Regions from separate parts of the Homo sapiens genome. Here region 2 is linked to region 1. Evidence: fine-mapped expression QTL. A gene starts in region 1. The other region holds a variant in brackets. All regions are shown on one strand. Distances are from middle to middle. Region 1 holds the start of CD63-AS1 (CD63 antisense RNA 1). Region 2 holds the start of MMP19 (matrix metallopeptidase 19).

Region 1 (9,098 bases):
ACCCCTCTCCCAACTCTCCTCAACTGTTCTTTTCCCTTGATTCTGGATCCCTTCTTTCTTCCTCACCTTCCTCATATCCCCTCACCCTCCTCATATCCCCTCACCCTTTCCTGTGCTTAGATGCAGGCTACAAGCTGCTGTGCATGGCACTGGGTCTGGCTGATGCCTACATGCTCTCAGAAGGCTGCAGGTTTGCTTGAGACATCTGTGGCCCCCATGCTGTGTCGCTGGGCCTAGGTGGAGGCGTGGTGAAGCTGGAGGGAAAGCTGGCTTTGCTTGGTGTGGAGGGACAAGGGTCCCCGCCTCAGCACACCTACCACCAACTGGTGCCAGGCAACCAAGAGGCAGCAGCCTGGGCCAGCCAGGACGGCTTGGTGGCATATCTGGATGTCAGGCACTTGGAACAGGTGCTGGGGGATCTGAAGGATGTGAAGGGCCAGGTCTGAGATCAGCCACTTCCCACTAAGAGGCCCCTCTATCCTGCACCCCAGCAAACACATGGAGCTCTGTGTCAACTTTCCAGGCTGTAGAAGTGGGCCATTCTTTGTGTGTATGTGTGTAGTAAAATATATATAACATAAAATTCAGGGACATTGAGTACATACACATTGTGCAACCATCAGCACCATCCATCTCCACAACATTTTCATCTTTCTTTCTTTTTCTTTGAGACAGAGTCTCGCTCTGTTGCCCAGGCTGGAGTGCAATGGCACAATATCGGCTCTACTAAAAATACAAAATTATCCAGGCATGGTGGCGCATGCCTGTAATCCCGGCTACTCAGGAGGCTGAGGCAGGAGAATCTCTTGAACCTGGGAGGCAGAGGTTGTGGTGAGTTGTGCCACTGCACTCCAGCCTGGGCAACAAGAGCAAAACTCCATCTCAAAAACAAAAACAAAAACAAAAAACCTAGATGTTTATGGTTAAGGAAACAAATTAATAATAATAAAAAAGATAATATCGATTCTTACAAAATACAGTAATTAAGAAAATTAATCCTTTATCACAAACTTTTGTAGCAGAGCACATCTCTCCATATATACAAGCATTATACCGAGGGTGAATGTGTTCCTCCTCTTACTTTTTTTTTTTGAGACAGAGTTTTGCCGGGCACAGTGGCTCACGCCTGTAATCCCAGCACTTTGGAAGGCTGAGGGGGCGGATCACGAGGTCAATAGATGGAGACCATCCTGGCCAATATGGTGAAACCCCATCTCTACTAAAAACACAAAAATTAGCTGGGCGTAGTGGTGCGTGCCTGTAGTCCCAGCTACTTGGGAGGCTGAGGCAGGAGAATCACTTGAACACGGGAGGCGGAGGTTGCAGTGAGCCAAGATGGCACCACTGCACTCCACCCTGGTGACAGAGCGAGACTCCGTCTCAAAAAAAAAAAAAAAAAAAAGAGAGACGGAGTTTCACTCTTGTTGCCCAGGATGGCATGCAGCAACACGATCTCTGCTCACTGCAACCTCTGCCTCCTGGGTTCAAGTGATTCTCCTGCCTCAGCCTCCTGAGTAGCTGGGACTACAGGCACACATCATTGTGCCCAGCTACTTTTTGTATTTTTAGTAGAGACGGGGTTTCACCGTGTTGGCCAGGCTGGTCTCGAACTCCTGACCTCAGGTGATCCACCTGCCTAGGCCTCCCAAAATGCTGGGATTACAGGTGTGGTGAGCCACTGCGCCTAGCCCCTCCTCTTACTTTGGGGAACATCCTACTCTGTCTATGGAGCAGCTGTTGTTTCACCACTTTACTTTCTTAATAAACTTGCTTATACTTTGCACTGCGACTCGCCCTGAATCTTTCTTGCATGAGATCCAAGAACCCTCTCTTGTGGTCTGGATTGGGACCCCTTTCCTGTAACAAATGCATTGGCTGATAGGAGAATAAAGAAAAAAAAAGAGGAAAAACTAGAGTAACTTCTCTACATAATCATATTATATGACCGTTTTGTTAACCATGATAACAGTTAACAAAATAATTTTCTTATGTCTAATTCTCAGTCCATGTCTGTATGTCCCAAAATGTCTTTCACAGCTGGTTTGTTCAACCATTCAATGAAGGACCAAACATTGCAGTTGGTTGTTATGTATCTAGTCTCTCAATCTTGATCTTCAGACCACCTTCAGCCCATCTCACCACATCCGTCCCAAGCCCTTTGAGCCAGCCAACCCCAACCTGCCATGTACTTTACAAAATGCTCCTTTTTTTTCCACAGTCGACTGCTTCTCTGTCCCTGGAGCTCTCCCCTTTATTCTCCAAGGTCACCTTGAGCACATCCTTCTGCTCCGTGAAATCCATTCTCCTCTCCCTTTCCCTCCCTCTGAGCTTAACCAGCTGCCACCGCAGGCTTCTGCCTTTCTTCACAGTGTGGCCAGAACTCGGTTCTGCCTGCTAGCAGAGGGCAGGGCCGCTGTCTTCCTCTCCTTGCAGCCCCCAAGCCTAGCACATGCCTGGCATCTAGTGGCAGCACAATAAGGAACCTGATGAATACTCCTTTCTTCTGCTCTCCGCTCCTCCTCCACAGCCTGCCAGCCATGGTCAGGAAGAGCAAGATCCGGAATGGGCTTGGTGTGTCCCGCGGGAAGGCCGTGATCCTGGAAGATGCTTCTCAGCCCAGCCCGGATCTCCTTCCTTTAGCTCTAGAGACTTCTTTCATTCTTTGTGTACACACATACACTAAGACTCAGGAAGTGGTTCTTGAGGCAGGACCTTAAGAGCCCAAGGAGTGGGGCCGAGGCTGGAGGTGTGGGGGTGTGACGGCCGGTCCTACTCTCCGGCCTGTTCAGATCAGCTCCTTCTGGGGACCACCCCTGGCACACAAGGGAGGGAGGCAGCTTGATCCCCCTAGCCCGCTTCCAGCCCTCACCTGGCTTTGTCTTCTGGGATAAGACGGGGAAATCCAGAGGATGTAAGCCTCTCCTGCCTTCGTGTCTTCCCCCAAGCCCTCGCTATCACAGACGGATGCAGGAGCTGTCTGGGAGGCTGGAAGCACAGACCTTGTCAATCCTCCCCCAGAGGGCGGGACCCGACGCGGACGTGTCTTGATTGACTGGGTAGCGTGGCTTCGGGGAAGGGCTTCCTCCCCTTTTCTCAGACTAGGATCCCTGGAAAATGGAGAAGCTGTGCTAATAGAGGGGGGCCAGAAATCCCCACTCTAGAATGCTGTAGAATGTTGGGAGACACCCAGGATGTGAGCCAGGGACTTTCTGGAAGTGTTTGTTCTGGCCCCACCCGACCCCAGGCAGTCCCCAGCTGTCTGCACAGTCGGATGGGGAGGGGGCTTGCACAGAGTTGGAGCCAGAGGAGAGAGCTGGCTCATCCCCTACGGTAGGATGGGGAAACCTCACAGACCACATTGTCACCCGGCCTCAGCTCTCCGCCCCGGCGCTCAGAGGGTAACTCTCACCCACCTCGTCCGCTTCTCTGAACCAGAGTGACCCAGGCTGCGCTCCGCCCCGCTCTCCTACCCCGAGTTGGCACGGAGGTATAGCGCCAGAGGGGGGCCCCAGGCGCCCCGAGGTCTTGCCCTTGCGGCTTTCCCTTTGCGGGGGTGGGCGCCTTCTTCCGGGTAGGGGCCACGTGGCCCTGGCCGGGCGGGGGGCTCGGCCCACCCCGCGCCGGGCCCAGTGACTCAGGCCGCAGCTGTTACCGCGTCACATGAGGGAGGCCGGCGGCCACTCGGCGGGGGAGGGGACCGTGGCTGGAGCCCGGGGCGGGGCCGCGCGGCAGGCGGGGCGGGAGCCGGGGGGCGCAGCTAGAGAGCCCCGGAGCCGCGGCGGGAGAGGAACGCGCAGCCAGCCTTGGGAAGCCCAGGTGAGGCCGCGGGGACCCGGCGGACTTCGGCGCGGGCTGGGAGAGACCACCCGCAGTCCCTTCCTCCAGGGCTCGCCCCAGGCCCGCGGAGACTCGTCCGGCGCTCTCCAGCCGCCCTGGAGCAACTTTGCTTCGAAGTTCCCTGGGCCCGGGCAGGGTGTGGCGGGGGTGCTGGCTGCACTTTTTTTTTTTTTGGTGGGCGGGGAGGTCAGAGCCCAGGGGAAAGGGGCTGGGGCGGGGGTCGGGGTTGGGCTGAAGACCGTTTCTCCAGGCTGGGTGTTGGGTGGGGAAAGGGTGTTTGACGCCCGGAGACTGGCGGGCCGAGGGTCGGCGTCAGGCTCAAGCCCCTGCCGGCGCCCTTGGATCTGTCCTGGGCCCCAGAGGCGGCGGGGCGGGGTCCGGGCTTCGCGGCCGTCGCCCCCACCCCTCTCCTGCGGGTAAAGAGGGGGCTGGGAGACGTGGATCCGACCGCGGGTTTCCGGGTGGGAGGGGCCGGGAATCGGGGCCGTGAAGGGAAGCCCTCGAGGGCCGGCCGGGAGCCCGGAAACCGAGGTCCCCCTTCGGCCAGTTTTAATCCCCCCGCCCTCCCCTCTGCCCCAGGCCCGGCAGCCATGGCGGTGGAAGGAGGAATGAAATGTGTGAAGTTCTTGCTCTACGTCCTCCTGCTGGCCTTTTGCGTGAGTGGCGAGGGGTCCTGGGGGGCGCGCCGGCAGGGTGCGGGGAGACCTGGCTCCACAGTGGTGAGGGCTGAGGGAATGAGAATTAAGGCAGCTGGAGACCAGATGTGGAAAGAAAGCCAGGGAAAGACAGCGCAGCCACTCCCTCCTCCAGTTTTCCTGGACACCTGAGGCTTGTTTCCACCGAGAATGGCCATCCTGGGTGTGCAGCAACCCCTACCCCCATCCCTCCTGGCCCTTCCTGTCTGGTGACCCAACCACTTGTGATATGGGGCAGTGGGGCAACCAGCCAACCGCCTGATGCTATCGCCATGGGGCTTCCCTTCGCTCTCCCTTCTCCCCTCTCTCCCTCCCCAACCCTCTCATCCCTGTCCAGCCCCTCTCCCCCTTTCCCTCCTCCCAGCGCTTGGGGGTGAGGAAGGGCTCTGCCCACTTCAATTTGCTCCTGCCCTGGGCTCCTGGCTTGAGAGGCTACTGTTTGTCTAGGGAGGGACACATCACTCTTGCTCCCTTTTCCTCTTCCCTTCTCCTGGCCTAACTGGCCAGAGGAACCTTAGTCACAGCTGATGCGCGCGTGGGATGTGCACTGGAGGATAGTGAGGGGGCAGTTCTGGGAGAGAATTGAGCTGGGAGCCCTGGAGGCCTGTAGAAAGCATTATTCTAGGTCAGAAATACGTGTCTTGAGGTCAAGGCTTTCTGGGAGGTTTTTGAATTTGGTCATGTCCCTGATTAAAGAGCCGGGAGGGGATCAGGGGAGGTAGGGGCAGGCAAGGATGGGTCATCCCCCTACCCCACAGCCAAAGAAATTCCCTAGAGGTGTGAGAATCTCTCTTCCGGATGGGGTCAAGTCTGTGTCCTAGGTGTACCCCCTGCCCTCCACCATGGAGGGCCACTGTGTTGTGGATATGGCCTAATCCTCACCTGATTTTCTCTTAGGCCTGTGCAGTGGGACTGATTGCCGTGGGTGTCGGGGCACAGCTTGTCCTGAGTCAGACCATAATCCAGGGGGCTACCCCTGGCTCTCTGTTGCCAGTGGTCATCATCGCAGTGGGTGTCTTCCTCTTCCTGGTGGCTTTTGTGGGCTGCTGCGGGGCCTGCAAGGAGAACTATTGTCTTATGATCACGGTGAGTTGGGGGCGGGACCAACATGGGCGGTCTGGGACTGCCAGAGCAGCTTGGTTCGGGCTCAGGAAGGTGGGTGAGGTGGGTGGGTGAGGAAGACCTTTGTGAGTGTCCAGGGACCGGCTGTGCCAAAACGGGCCCCTGTAATGCATAGACTCCAAACTTGACTTCTGTCCTTTGCTCCTGCAGTTTGCCATCTTTCTGTCTCTTATCATGTTGGTGGAGGTGGCCGCAGCCATTGCTGGCTATGTGTTTAGAGATAAGGTAAGCAGGGAATAATGGGAAGGGCCTGCCTCAGCCGGGTCTGGGACCCTGGTGCTTGAATTCTGACTGCAACAGTGCTCCTCCGTACTCTCAGGTGATGTCAGAGTTTAATAACAACTTCCGGCAGCAGATGGAGAATTACCCGAAAAACAACCACACTGCTTCGATCCTGGACAGGATGCAGGCAGATGTGAGTGGGGTTGCTGGGAGCAGGGGTGGTGGGAATAGAGAATTCTCATCTCCAAGGCTGGGTGTGGTGACTCACGCCTGTAATCTCAGCACTTTTGAAGGCCGAGGTGGGCAGATCACCTGAGGTCAGAAGTTCAAGACTAGCCTGGCCAACGTGGTGAAACCCTGTCTCTACTAAAAATACAAAAATTAGCCAGGTGTGGTGGTGAGTGCCTGTAATCCCACCTACTCAGGAGGGTGAGGCAGGAGAATCGCTTGAACCCGGGAGGCGGAGGTTGCAGTGAGCCGAGATTGAGCCACCGCTGGGCACTTGTCTGGGCAACAGAGCAAGTCTCTGTCTCAAAAAAAAAAAAAAAAAAAAAAAAAGAATTCTCATCTCCATATTGAAGGTGAAGGTTCACTTAACAACCTTCTTCTCCATATTTCTTCCCTCCCCCAGTTTAAGTGCTGTGGGGCTGCTAACTACACAGATTGGGAGAAAATCCCTTCCATGTCGAAGAACCGAGTCCCCGACTCCTGCTGCATTAATGTTACTGTGGGCTGTGGGATTAATTTCAACGAGAAGGCGATCCATAAGGAGGTAGGGAGGAGACTGTGTATGGGACTTGGGAAACCTGGGAAATGTTTTAGAATGCAAGAGACCCAGGATGGAGGTGGACAGGGTCAGGGATGGGGAGGGGATCTGGAAATGCTAAGGGTGGGGTGAAAGGTACAGGGGCAGGGAAGAGACTGATGGACCAAGGGAGGGGGTTGGGGTGGGAAGTTTCTGATGGTGCTTTTGTCCTTTGTGCCTGCCACCTTCAGGGCTGTGTGGAGAAGATTGGGGGCTGGCTGAGGAAAAATGTGCTGGTGGTAGCTGCAGCAGCCCTTGGAATTGCTTTTGTCGAGGTAAGAGATAACCCTGAGCAGGGGCTGGGACTCTGTCCAGGGTGCCTGGAGGGAAGGGGCTGAGGGGAGGAGGGTGCTGAACAGGAGGTACTGGCCTGGGAGTGTGTGTTTGGAGTCTCTTGCATGGGTCTGAGGTAGCTAGCCCTTCTGACTCCTCTCCACCCCTGTCCCCATCTTTCCTTCTAGGTTTTGGGAATTGTCTTTGCCTGCTGCCTCGTGAAGAGTATCAGAAGTGGCTACGAGGTGATGTAGGGGTCTGGTCTCCTCAGCCTCCTCATCTGGGGGAGTGGAATAGTATCCTCCAGGTTTTTCAATTAAACGGATTATTTTTTCAGACCGAAAAGAGATGGTCTGAGTTTGTCTTAGAGTGATGCTTGATTCCTTCCTTTCCTTACTGATGTTCCCTGTCCTCTGGGACCTTAATGCATGTGTACTTCGAGGTCTATTTTGGGGGGTGTTTGGGAAAGGAGGACTTTGCGAAGGTGTTGGTTGGGCAGGCAGTGGGAGAAGTGAGGATCCAGAGACTGTGGTGCTTTCTGCCCCCTAGTCTTATGCTGCCAGGCTCACTATGAACATTCATGAAGCCATCTGCTGCATAAGTCAAAGCAGCTCCCCAGAAAGGTCCCACCTGCGAGAGCCCAGCCCCCATCTGCCTTGGACATCTTCCTGGCCTTCTGTGCACCGCTAAGGGCCCAGCACCTCCCTTCCTGGCCAATCCTCAAGGGATCCAGCTCCTTTCGAAGTATGATAAGTTGCCTTGACACCTGTGTGGTCAGTGTCCTTAGCAGGAGAATTTATGTGAATATTGCCTTTTCTTCCATGGAAGCCACCCAGCCTGGCCCAGAACCCTCATCACCTGCTCTTCTCCCCCAAGAAATATGAAGACCATTCCCAGTACAGACACTGAATTGCAACCTTACTCCCCTTCAGAAAATAAGGGAAATGTATTAAAGTGCCCTTTGATGGCCACTCCCCGACGTGCAGCTGTAGATGTGAGGCAGTTCCCTGGCGCCCCACTGTGGGTGCTAGCTGTTTTGCAGGGACTGAACAGGCCAGAGACCGTGAGCATGTCGGTTTGGAGTAGTTGGCACTTAAATGGGGTCAGCCTTCCACTGGGCACATTTCTGCCCACCTTCTTTTTATTTTTTAAACAATACACTTTTGTTAGTGCTTATTTTGTGGCAGGCACCAGGCAGTACCAGGGTGGGGGCAGAAATAAATCAAAGTCCTTGTCCTTGAAAAACAATCTCTTGCTGGAAGGCTGGATTCAGTAGACTGCTTGGGCAGGCTTGGGAAGGACCCAGGTGAGCACAGCATCCACCAGGCTGGCTGGCAGGTAGGAGGCAGGCAGCCAGAGCAGCTTGGCATCCCAACCTGGGCTGTAGCGGGTTCGGGGGTGTCGAGCAGTCAGGGCATGCTCCAGGCATCGGCTCACCTTGGTTAGGTCCGGGTCACAGATCAGGTTCATGATGCGCTGTTGCATTTTCAGGTCTGCAGCCCCATAGGTGGTTGCAATCAGTTTCCCTTCCTCACTCCAGCCCATCTTAGGTACTGTCTTCTGGGGCCCTGGGCTTGTCACCCTCAGTCCCCTCCTCAGTGTGGGGAGTGGGCAGGTTCCACATGGCCTGGGCACTCTTGTAACATCCTGTTCACCCTCAACCCTGCCCTGGGTGCCCCACCCACCTCCTAGCAGGCTTATGCAGGACTGGCCTTTCTGGTACTTGTTTCCCTTCATGTGCCCCTGTGTGGGCCTGGCTACTCACACTTGGTGAGGAAGGCCCCCCCATAGTGGGCCTGTGTGGCAGGAGGCAGCCGTGCCCAGCAGGCCTGCAGGGTTTTCTCCAGACTCTCCAGGTTGGTCACAGGGGTTCGGAAGAAGCCAGGCTCCACGATGGAGACTCGTATCCCAAAATGAGCTACATCCCGCCTAGAGTCGGGGCAGAGCGAAGTTGCTGGGTTCTTGCCCTATAGGGAGGGGACTTTGAGGGACATGGGTTGGGGAGCTGAGAAAGTTACCACAGACCAGGGACAAGAGTTTTGACGGAGATGCCTACTGCCCCGGGACAAGGGTCAAGTGGGGTAGAGGGAGGAAAGTATTTTTGAGGTTTGTTTTCTTTGATCTAGAGCAGGGGTCAGCACGTT
Region 2 (9,098 bases), 120 kb before region 1:
GAGGTTTCCAGGGTAACAGCTTAAAAATTCAACCCCACTCTGCCAAAGAAAGCTCCCTATGTCCTGACTCCCTGAGGGGGAAACAGGTCAGAGGCTAACACCACCAACTCCCACATTTATCCAGGTCAAGGGCAAAGTCGGGGCCAGCCCTAACTTGGTTACAGCTCATGTTTTTCTCACCTCCAGTTTCCAGTTTCAGGCTCCAGACTTGCCCTTCTACCTGCCCTCCAGGATTCCCCTTTCTTCTTTCCCCAGCTTCCCTGCCCACTGCCTCCACAGGGTAAGGGTGGCTGTCAGAGGGGGTGGGCGATAGCTTTGAGATTAGCTTCTGCTGGGCTTAGAAATCTCTACAAACTTTTGCCTTCCACCCATAACCCCATGGCCCCTGATCATTAGAAAATACTCTCAGAGGTCTACTCTACTCCCACTTGCTATAGTTTAAAATATTGTCATTAAAAATATTTCTGTAAAACTCTTTTGCCACAATTTGTGGACAGAGAGGGAAACCAACTTGCAGGAAGGGAGCAAGCAAGACAAAGAACCCATTTTTTTCTCTCAGATCAAGTTCTCTTTTTGGGGCAGGCAAGCCACATGTCCTAACCCTTCGCACACACGTCCACATCTCCCCCAGTGAGAGATGACAAATTTAGAGATGACAAAAAAGAGCTGGGTCAGCCCGGCTCAGGGGGTAGGAGCTGGTGGAGGGGGTGGTCATGATGCTGTGCTGGCAACAATTAGTCATCCAATCCTTGCACATGTGCCCAGCCTGCAGCTCCAGACTCTAGGGGCTTTTGTTTGGGTGCCTGTGGGAACTCTGGGAGACTGAAGAGTGCTGAGCAAAGATGGCAGCTTTAGAGCCTGCTCCAGGCTCTGCTGCATCCTAGCTATGTGACCTGAAGCAACTTATTAGAGACTCAGTTTCTCTTTCTGTAAAAAGATGATAATACTGGCCAGGTGCGGTGGCTCACGCCTGTAATCCCAGCACTTTGGGAGGCCAAGGGAGGTGGATCACTTGAGCTCAGGAGTTTGAGACCAGCCTGGCCAACACAGCAAAATCCCATCTCTACTAAAAGTACAAAAATTAGCTGGGTGTGGTGGCACGCGCCTGTAATCCCAGCTATTCGGGTGGCTGAGGCAGGAGAATTGCTTGAACCCGGGAGGCAGAGGTTGCAGTGAGCCGAGATTGCGCCACTGCACTCCAGCCTGGGCTACAGAGTGAGATTCAGTCTCAGAAAAGGAGTAAAAAAGATGATAATACTGGCTGAAGGGTTGTTGTTAAAATTTAAATGAAGTTATCTATTTGGCAGCTTTTACTTTTGATTTATTCTCTCTCTCCTGGCTCCTAAGTTGCTAGAATATAGTTCCACCCCCAGGCCTTCTGAGGCCGGAGTTAGTACCCACCCTCACCTTATGATAACTGCCATCTCTCTCCCTAACACACTAAATATATATATATATATATACACACACATATATATACACACACACACTTTTTTTTTCTGGTTAGGCACAGTGGCTCACACGTATAATCACAGCATTTTGGGAGGCCGAGGTGGGCCGATCACTTGAGCCCAAGACCAGCCTGAGCACCATAGGAAACCCGCCTCCCCCACCCCCCACACTCTCTACAAAAAATACAAAAATTAGCTGGGCTGGGTGGTGTGTGCCTGTAGCCCCAGTTATGCAGGAGGCTGAGGTGGGAGGATTGCTTGAGCCCAGAAGGCGAAGGTTGCAGCGAGCCAGGATTATTGTGCCACTGTTTTCCAGCCTGGGAGACCCAAAAAAAAATTTTTTTTTCTTTTTTTCCTTACATGAGGTTTCTAAGGGGAGGGAGTAATTTGCTATAACATTCATTTTACTTTACTCCTGTCCCTTGCATCCTCCTTGTCTGTCTCTTCCCCACCCCTCCCCTCACCTCTCCTCCATTATCCTCTCTGGCTCCCAAAGCTTTCTCCTCCCTCCCAGACAGTCTCTAGGGGCTGAGGCCAGGCAGGCGGAGCTGGGTGAGCTCAGTTCCACAGACAGTTTCAAAGAAATGCATCAAAATGTTACTAGTGGTTCTCTTTTGGGTAGAATTTACTAGTGGTTTTCATTTTCTTCCTTGTTTGTTTTGGTATTTTCTAATACCAAATATTATAATGAATGATGAATAACTTATTCAGGAAAAAAACACAAAACATTAATTTTAAAAATCGTAATTAATTTTCAATTGGCGCATGTTCTGTTCTCAAAAGGAGAAAGACTGGAAAGGGGGTAGAAAGAGAGGAGGAAGAGCCCCGCAGGGGACTAAGCAGGAACTTGTCCCCAAACTCCATCATTTCCTGGGTGCATCAGCCTTGGTGATGGGCCCTGTCACTCATCGCTCAGAGGCTTTCTGTCCTTCCTTGCCTGTCACTGGTCACTTGAGACTTAGTCACCCAATGGTTACCAGTTGGGTGGTGGATGGGCCAGACGGACCAGCATCATTGAGGGCAGCAATATGGATCAGGAGCATCCCCCACCTTGATCCTGGGCTGTGAGGTGTTCCCTTGTGGCCTCCCAGCCCTTCTGAGAACATAAAAGTTCAGTTACCTTTTCCCCCATTCCTATGTCTACTTCACTGTGCTTTTGAACAATATGAAAATGTTGTATGATGTGTAACTGATGGTGGAGCCTTCAGGGGTCCTAGTTACTTAAAGAACAAAGCTCTAAGTGTCAGTGTGGTGTACGGAAAGAGCATGAGTTATAGAGTCAGCAGAGGGATTTAAATAAGGTCAGGCCAGTTGGGAGTTCCATGTTCTTGGTCAAATTTCCCTTTCTGAGTATCTATTTCCTCCTACAAAAAGTGGCCGGAATAATTTTCCCCTCACCAGATGGCTGTGAGAACTATAGGAGGTAATATATAAAGCATGTAATACATAGTAGCTTTTTATTTATTTATTTATTTATTTTTTTTTTGTGGGGGGACAGAGTCTCGCTCTGTCGCCCAGGATGGAGTGCAGTGGTGCGATCTCAGCTCACTGCAACCTCTGTCTCCCGGATTCAAGCGATTCTCCTGCCTCAGCCTCCTGAGTAGCTGGGATTACAGGCGCGTGCCACCACGCCTGGCTAATTTTTGTATTTTTAGTAGAGACGGGGTTTCACCATGTTGGTCAGGCTGGTCTCAAACTCTTGACCTCAGGTGATCCACCCACCTCGGCCTCCGAAAGTGCTGGGATTACAAGTGTGAGTCACCATGCCCGGACTTTAATTCCTTTAATTTTTTATTTCCATAGGTTTTTGGGGAACAGGTGGTATTTGGTTACATAAATTCTTTAGTGTTTAGTGGTGATTTGTGAGATTTTGGTTCACCCATCACCCAATAATAGGTATTTTTATTTTAATTAATTAACTAATTAACTAATTTTGAGACAGAGTCTCATTCTGTCACCAGGCTGGAGTACAGTGGCGCGATCTCAGCTCACTGCAATCTCCGCCTCCCCAGTTCAAGCAATTCTCCTGCCTCAGTCTCCCGAGTAGCTGGGATTACAGGCGCATGCCATCACGCCTGGCTAATTTTTGTATTTTTAGTAGAGACAAGATTTTGCTATGTTGGCCAGGCTAGTCTCAAACTCCTGACCTCATGGTCCGCCCACCTCAGCCTCCGAAAGTGCTGGGATTACAGACGTGAGCCACTGCTCCCGTCCGGTATTTTTAAATGTAAGTTTTTCTTCTTTTCCTTGCATAGCATTTAAGGCCCTCTCCAAATTCTGTCTCCCAACCACTTTCCCACCCTGGTCATTCTTTGACAGTGATTTATTAAGCACAGCCTCGAAAGCATGGAGGTGGCCTGGGGTAGGCACTCGGGCTTCAGTGGTGAATGAAGCAGTCGTGACCCTTCTGACTTACTGAGTACAGCAGTCTCTCAGCTCTGCACTTTTACTCAAGACCTGCACTGTCTGTCTCTCAGTATCCTTTTACCCTATCAATTCTTTTTTTTTTTGAGATGGAGTTTTTGCTCTGTTGCCCAGGCTGGAGTGCAATGGTGTGATCTCAGCTCACTGCAACCTCTGCCTCCTGGGTTCACGTGATTCTCCTGCCTCAGCCTGCCGAGTAGCTGGGATTACAGGCGCCCGCCACCATACCTGGCTAATTTTTGTATTTTTAGTAGAAACAAGGTTTCACCATGTTGGTCAGGCTGGTTTCGAACTCTTGATCTCAAGTGATTCACCCACCTCAGCCTTTCAAAGTGCTAGGATTACAGGAGCGAGCCACCATGCCTGGCCTTACCCCATCAATTCTTAGCTGGCCTTCAAAGCCCATCTCAAAGCCTGACTTCTCAGCAAACCTCCCCCCAGCCCCAAGCCCCTTAGGGTGAATCACCTCTGGCCTGGCACGCTGGCTCCCCTCTTCCCAGGTGTCTGGATCTGCCTCACTGGATCCGTAAGCTCCCTGAGGGTAGGCTCTGGGCCCTTTACTTATTTGTGCCCTTGTTAAGTCCCACCTACACCCACATATTCCAGGCTCATTAGATTCTTGAAATAATGACTTTTTATTAAAGCAGACATAAGTAGGTTGCAGGAGCATCTATATTCCCAACTTGGTCTTGGGTACAAAGAAACTGAGACTTCACGCTTGACTCCTTCACCTGAAACCCAAGCTACCTCAGCTGTTTCCTACCTCTCAGCTTATTCTAGGGAGACTCAAAGGTAGGGGCGGAGTGATTTGCTGGCCCAGGGTCCCTGAGGCACATTGATGTCTAATTCCAGGGGATGTCCATGATCCCTATCTCTAGTCTCTCCAGAGATTCTGGTTCTCGTCCTGCCTGGATGCTCACCCTAGGGCAGTATGAAGTTTTTCCATCTCCAGCAGAGGACTCTGAGGGAAGCGATTGGGAACTCTCTTTGGCTTCCGCTCTCTGGTAGGGCAAGGGTTAATGGTGAATTGCAACATATCTCTTGGCTGAGTCACCTCCCTCTGCCTCTCCCCCAAATTCCCCTCAGCTGTTATAAAGAGGACTAGAGGCTGGAGAGTAAAAAGAACTGGGGGTAAGAGCCCCTCTGCCTAGCACTGCTCCCCCAAGGCTCCCAGAAATCTCAGGTCAGAGGCACGGACAGCCTCTGGAGCTCTCGTCTGGTGGGACCATGAACTGCCAGCAGCTGTGGCTGGGCTTCCTACTCCCCATGACAGTCTCAGGCCGGGTCCTGGGGCTTGCAGAGGTGGCGCCTGTGGTAAGTCCCCCAAGAAAGAGACCTGGGCCAGCGGAGGGACAGGGGTTACTGCTCCACAGCCCCATCGAAGCCTCCCTCCTGACCTTCAGCCTGCCTGCCTTTCCCTTGCTCTCTCTGCCCCATGGTCTACCCTGCCCATCTCCCGCTGCTTCCCCTTGTTCCACCTGAGCCCCTTCTCTAAGGTGCTTCTCCATTAGTGCTTCCATATC[A/G]GGTCCCTCCTCTCCTGATGGATCTGTTAGGTCACTTAGAAGCTTTACTCTGAGACTAACCCCCTTTTAACCTGCTTACCTCCACTCCCATCATAGGACTACCTGTCACAATATGGGTACCTACAGAAGCCTCTAGAAGGATCTAATAACTTCAAGCCAGAAGATATCACCGAGGCTCTGAGGTGAGAAGCTATGAGGTGTATGCCTTTAGGGCTAAGGTCTCAAGGTCTTCTTCCTTCTCATCCCTTCCTCTCCCCAGGCCCACCTCCTCCTGACCCTAAACCATGCCAGGGATTTAGAGATGGGTGGCGATCATTATTATGGTGGTGGGGCATGGGGTGAGATGGGGATTCACAGATGAGGAATACAGGCATTGGATCTTCCTAGGCCATAAGCATTCCTTTGGAGTCTCTACCCACATCATATCTCAAATACTAATATTTAGTTATAGTCCACATAAAGTGTAATGATATGTAAAACTGAGTTGAGTTGTTGACATGCTATTACCTTTTGTGGGCCTTCAATTTGGTACTTATTTATTTCTATTTTATAGTTTTATATGTTGATGTAATGGATTATTTTTCTTTCTGCTCTCAGATATGTTCAGGTCCCTTGAAAAGCCCCTAGGCCCTATGACAGTCCATAGATGGATGAAATTGCTCCAGGGCAAGCTGGGCTGGGACGGGTATCCATTCAGGAAGGGAGAAGGCTGAAGGAGGACAGGCTGTCAGGTGGGAGCACTAGTGGAAAGCTCTCCAGAGCAGGGGAGCCAGACACCTCCACAGAGTAGGAGAAGGTTAGAAATTGCAGTAGAGGGGCTGGGCATGGTGGCTCACGCCTGTAATCCCAGCACTTTGGGAGATCCAGGCAGGGGGATTGCTTGAGCCCAGAAGTTTGACAGCAACCTGGGCAACATAATGAGACCCCATCTCTACCAAAAAAGAAAGAAAGGAAGAAAGAAAGAGAGAAGAAAAAGAAAGGAAGGAAGGAAGGAAGGAAGGAAGGAAGGAAGGAAGGAAGGAAGATTGCAGTAGAGGAGGAAGGCTACACCTGAGGGCAAACTTACTCAAATAAAAGACACTGAAAATGGGGAGATGAAGCTGGAGTATCTCCATTTCTGCAGAACAGAAGAGAAAGTCCCAGTTATGAGGACTGGAGGCTGGAGTAACCCTGTCAGCTTCAGGGATTCTGTGCTATTCTTGGCCATGAACTTGGGCAGCAGGAAGTCAAAGAGCAATCATCTCCCAGTCATTTCAGATTTTCCTGTCCTGGTAGACCCATCCCTCTCCCTCCTTCAGAGCTTTTCAGGAAGCATCTGAACTTCCAGTCTCAGGTCAGCTGGATGATGCCACAAGGGCCCGCATGAGGCAGCCTCGTTGTGGCCTAGAGGATCCCTTCAACCAGAAGACCCTTAAATACCTGTTGCTGGGTGAGAACAGAGCCTGGAAAAGAGAGGGAGAGGAGGGGGTGATGTGGTTCTGGCGTGTGGGTGGCATTAGGACAGTCTGGACCAGCTCAGTGTTGAATAGATAATCACCTGGTGATTACCTGGTTGTCACCTGTCTTGGGGGTTGAGTGCCTAAACCCAGAGGAGCTCTCTGGGGTTGGCAGAAGGATCTGTATTTCTAATCTGTTTTCTGGTCATTAACTAGGCCGCTGGAGAAAGAAGCACCTGACTTTCCGCATCTTGAACCTGCCCTCCACCCTTCCACCCCACACAGCCCGGGCAGCCCTGCGTCAAGCCTTCCAGGACTGGAGCAATGTGGCTCCCTTGACCTTCCAAGAGGTGCAGGCTGGTGCGGCTGACATCCGCCTCTCCTTCCATGGCCGCCAAAGCTCGTACTGTTCCAATACTTTTGATGGGCCTGGTAGGCAACAGTTCTCAGTTCCCACCTCATAGACCTCTGAGATTACCTCTGTCTCCTTGAACCAGTGACTCTAGAACCTTGATGTTTGGGCTGCTCTTTATCCCACCTGCACCATACGCTCTCTAATTACCTCCTAACGGGAGCACGGGCGCAGTTGGTCATCTACATGGAGCCTCCTGTTTGAAACTTCCTCCCTCCCTCCCTTCCTTCTCTCCTTCTCTCTCCTTCCCTCCCTCCCTTCCTTCTCTCCCTCCCTCCCTTCCTTCTCTCCTTCTCTCTCTCCCTCCCTCCCTCCCTTCCTTCCTTCTCTCCCTCCCTCCCTCCCTCCCTTCTTTCCTTCCTCTCTCTTGCTTGCTTGACAGTCTCACTCTGTTGCCCAGACTGGAGTACAGTGACACAATCATGGCTCACTGCAGCCTCAACCTCCCAGGCTCAAGTGATCCTCCCGCCTCAGCCTCCCAGGTAGAGACTACAGGCAAACACTACCACACCTGGCTAATTTTTGTAGAGATGAAGTTTTGCTATGTTGCCCAGGCTGGTCTTAAACTCCTGTACTCAAGCAATCCTCCTGCCTTGGCCTCTGAAAGTGTTGGGATTACAGGTGTGAGCCATCACCCCTGGCTGCCTATGCTTCTTTTTCTCCCTTAAGTTCCCCTGTTCAAGGCATACCTTAGAGGTATGGGCCAGAGAGGACTGGGTCAGAGAGCAGGGAGTGGCTGGGAAGGTAAGGGACAGTGATGGGCATTCCTGAGAGAACTGGGTGATGACAGGGGAATCTGAAAGGGGAGAAAGAAGCATCCAAGAGACAGTGAACATAGCTGGGGGAATTTTAAAGGTATGCATTAATTAGAGTTTATAATAGGCAGGGTGTGCTCTAGCCTAGCGGGCTCTGACCTCCTTCCTGTTCACCTTTGCCTTTGTCCAGGGAGAGTCCTGGCCCATGCCGACATCCCAGAGCTGGGCAGTGTGCACTTCGACGAAGACGAGTTCTGGACTGAGGGGACCTACCGTGGGGTGAACCTGCGCATCATTGCAGCCCATGAAGTGGGCCATGCTCTGGGGCTTGGGCACTCCCGATATTCCCAGGCCCTCATGGCCCCAGTCTACGAGGGCTACCGGCCCCACTTTAAGCTGCACCCAGATGATGTGGCAGGGATCCAGGCTCTCTATGGTCAGTCCCTCCCCCTAGTGAGGGGGAGGGTCAGTCTGACTCCCACGTCAAGGCTTGAAGAGACAGGTCTAGCCTCCATGTAGGGATATAGCTTAGTGTCTTTCTTCTCCTCCAGCCCAGTTACTCAGGCTTCTTCATTTTCAGGAGCAGTTTTTCTCAGACTCTTCTATGTCTAATCTTCCTTCCAGGCCTCTCTCCTTACACCCATGCTTGGGGATGGAGAATGCACCTTCTTTTTTTTTTTTTTTTTTTTTGAGATAGAGCCTCACTCTGTCACCCAGGCTGGAGTGCAATGGCATGATCTTGGCTCACTGCAACCTCCGCCTCCCGGGTTCAAGCCATTCTCCTGCCTCAGCCTCCCAAGTAGCTGGGATTACAGGCACACGCAACCACGCCCAGCTAATTGTTTTTGTATTTTAGTAGAGATGGGGTTTCACCATGTTGCCCAGGCTGGTCTTAAATTCCTGAGCTCAGGCAATCCACCCGCCTCAGCCTCCCAAAGTCCTAGGATTATAGGCGTGAGCCACCACACCCGGCAAGAATGCACATTTTAACAATCCTCCTTCTCCCTTTCTGGTGTCTCTCAAACCTAGAACGTGTCTCCCGCTGATATCAACATAATATTGCCTACCACAAATGAAAACGCTCTAGGATTCCCTTT

Evidence for each region. PIP is the estimated chance that this variant, and not a neighbour inherited with it, causes the effect.
Region 2: its variant is fine-mapped to the expression of CD63-AS1 in blood mononuclear cells (TOPMed, PIP 0.92).

The regions. Positions count from the first base shown.
Region 1 is chr12:55,723,671-55,732,768 of GRCh38, reverse strand. It overlaps CD63-AS1 (CD63 antisense RNA 1), which reads right to left and starts at 3,675. Exons shown (of 2, transcript NR_183514.1): 1 at 3,414-3,675; 2 at 1,917-3,107. RDH5 (retinol dehydrogenase 5) reads right to left here. Exons shown (of 5, transcript NM_002905.5): 4 at 8,720-8,883; 5 at 8,064-8,447. The coding sequence ends at 8,224. It overlaps CD63 (CD63 molecule), which reads left to right and starts at 3,760. Exons shown (of 8, transcript NM_001780.6): 1 at 3,760-3,816; 2 at 4,417-4,493; 3 at 5,430-5,618; 4 at 5,805-5,879; 5 at 5,974-6,069; 6 at 6,508-6,648; 7 at 6,873-6,956; 8 at 7,143-7,446. The coding sequence starts at 4,428. The coding sequence ends at 7,208. It overlaps BLOC1S1-RDH5 (BLOC1S1-RDH5 readthrough), which reads right to left. Exons shown (of 6, transcript NR_037658.1): 5 at 8,720-8,883; 6 at 8,027-8,447. RefSeq lists silencers at 3,414-3,793, 4,064-4,363 and an enhancer at 3,328-3,934.
Region 2 is chr12:55,838,835-55,847,932 of GRCh38, reverse strand. MMP19 (matrix metallopeptidase 19) reads left to right here and starts at 4,997. Exons shown (of 9, transcript NM_002429.6): 1 at 4,997-5,189; 2 at 5,495-5,580; 3 at 6,697-6,827; 4 at 7,051-7,266; 5 at 8,192-8,437. The coding sequence starts at 5,103. The variant A/G (reference allele first, on the strand shown) is at 5,399.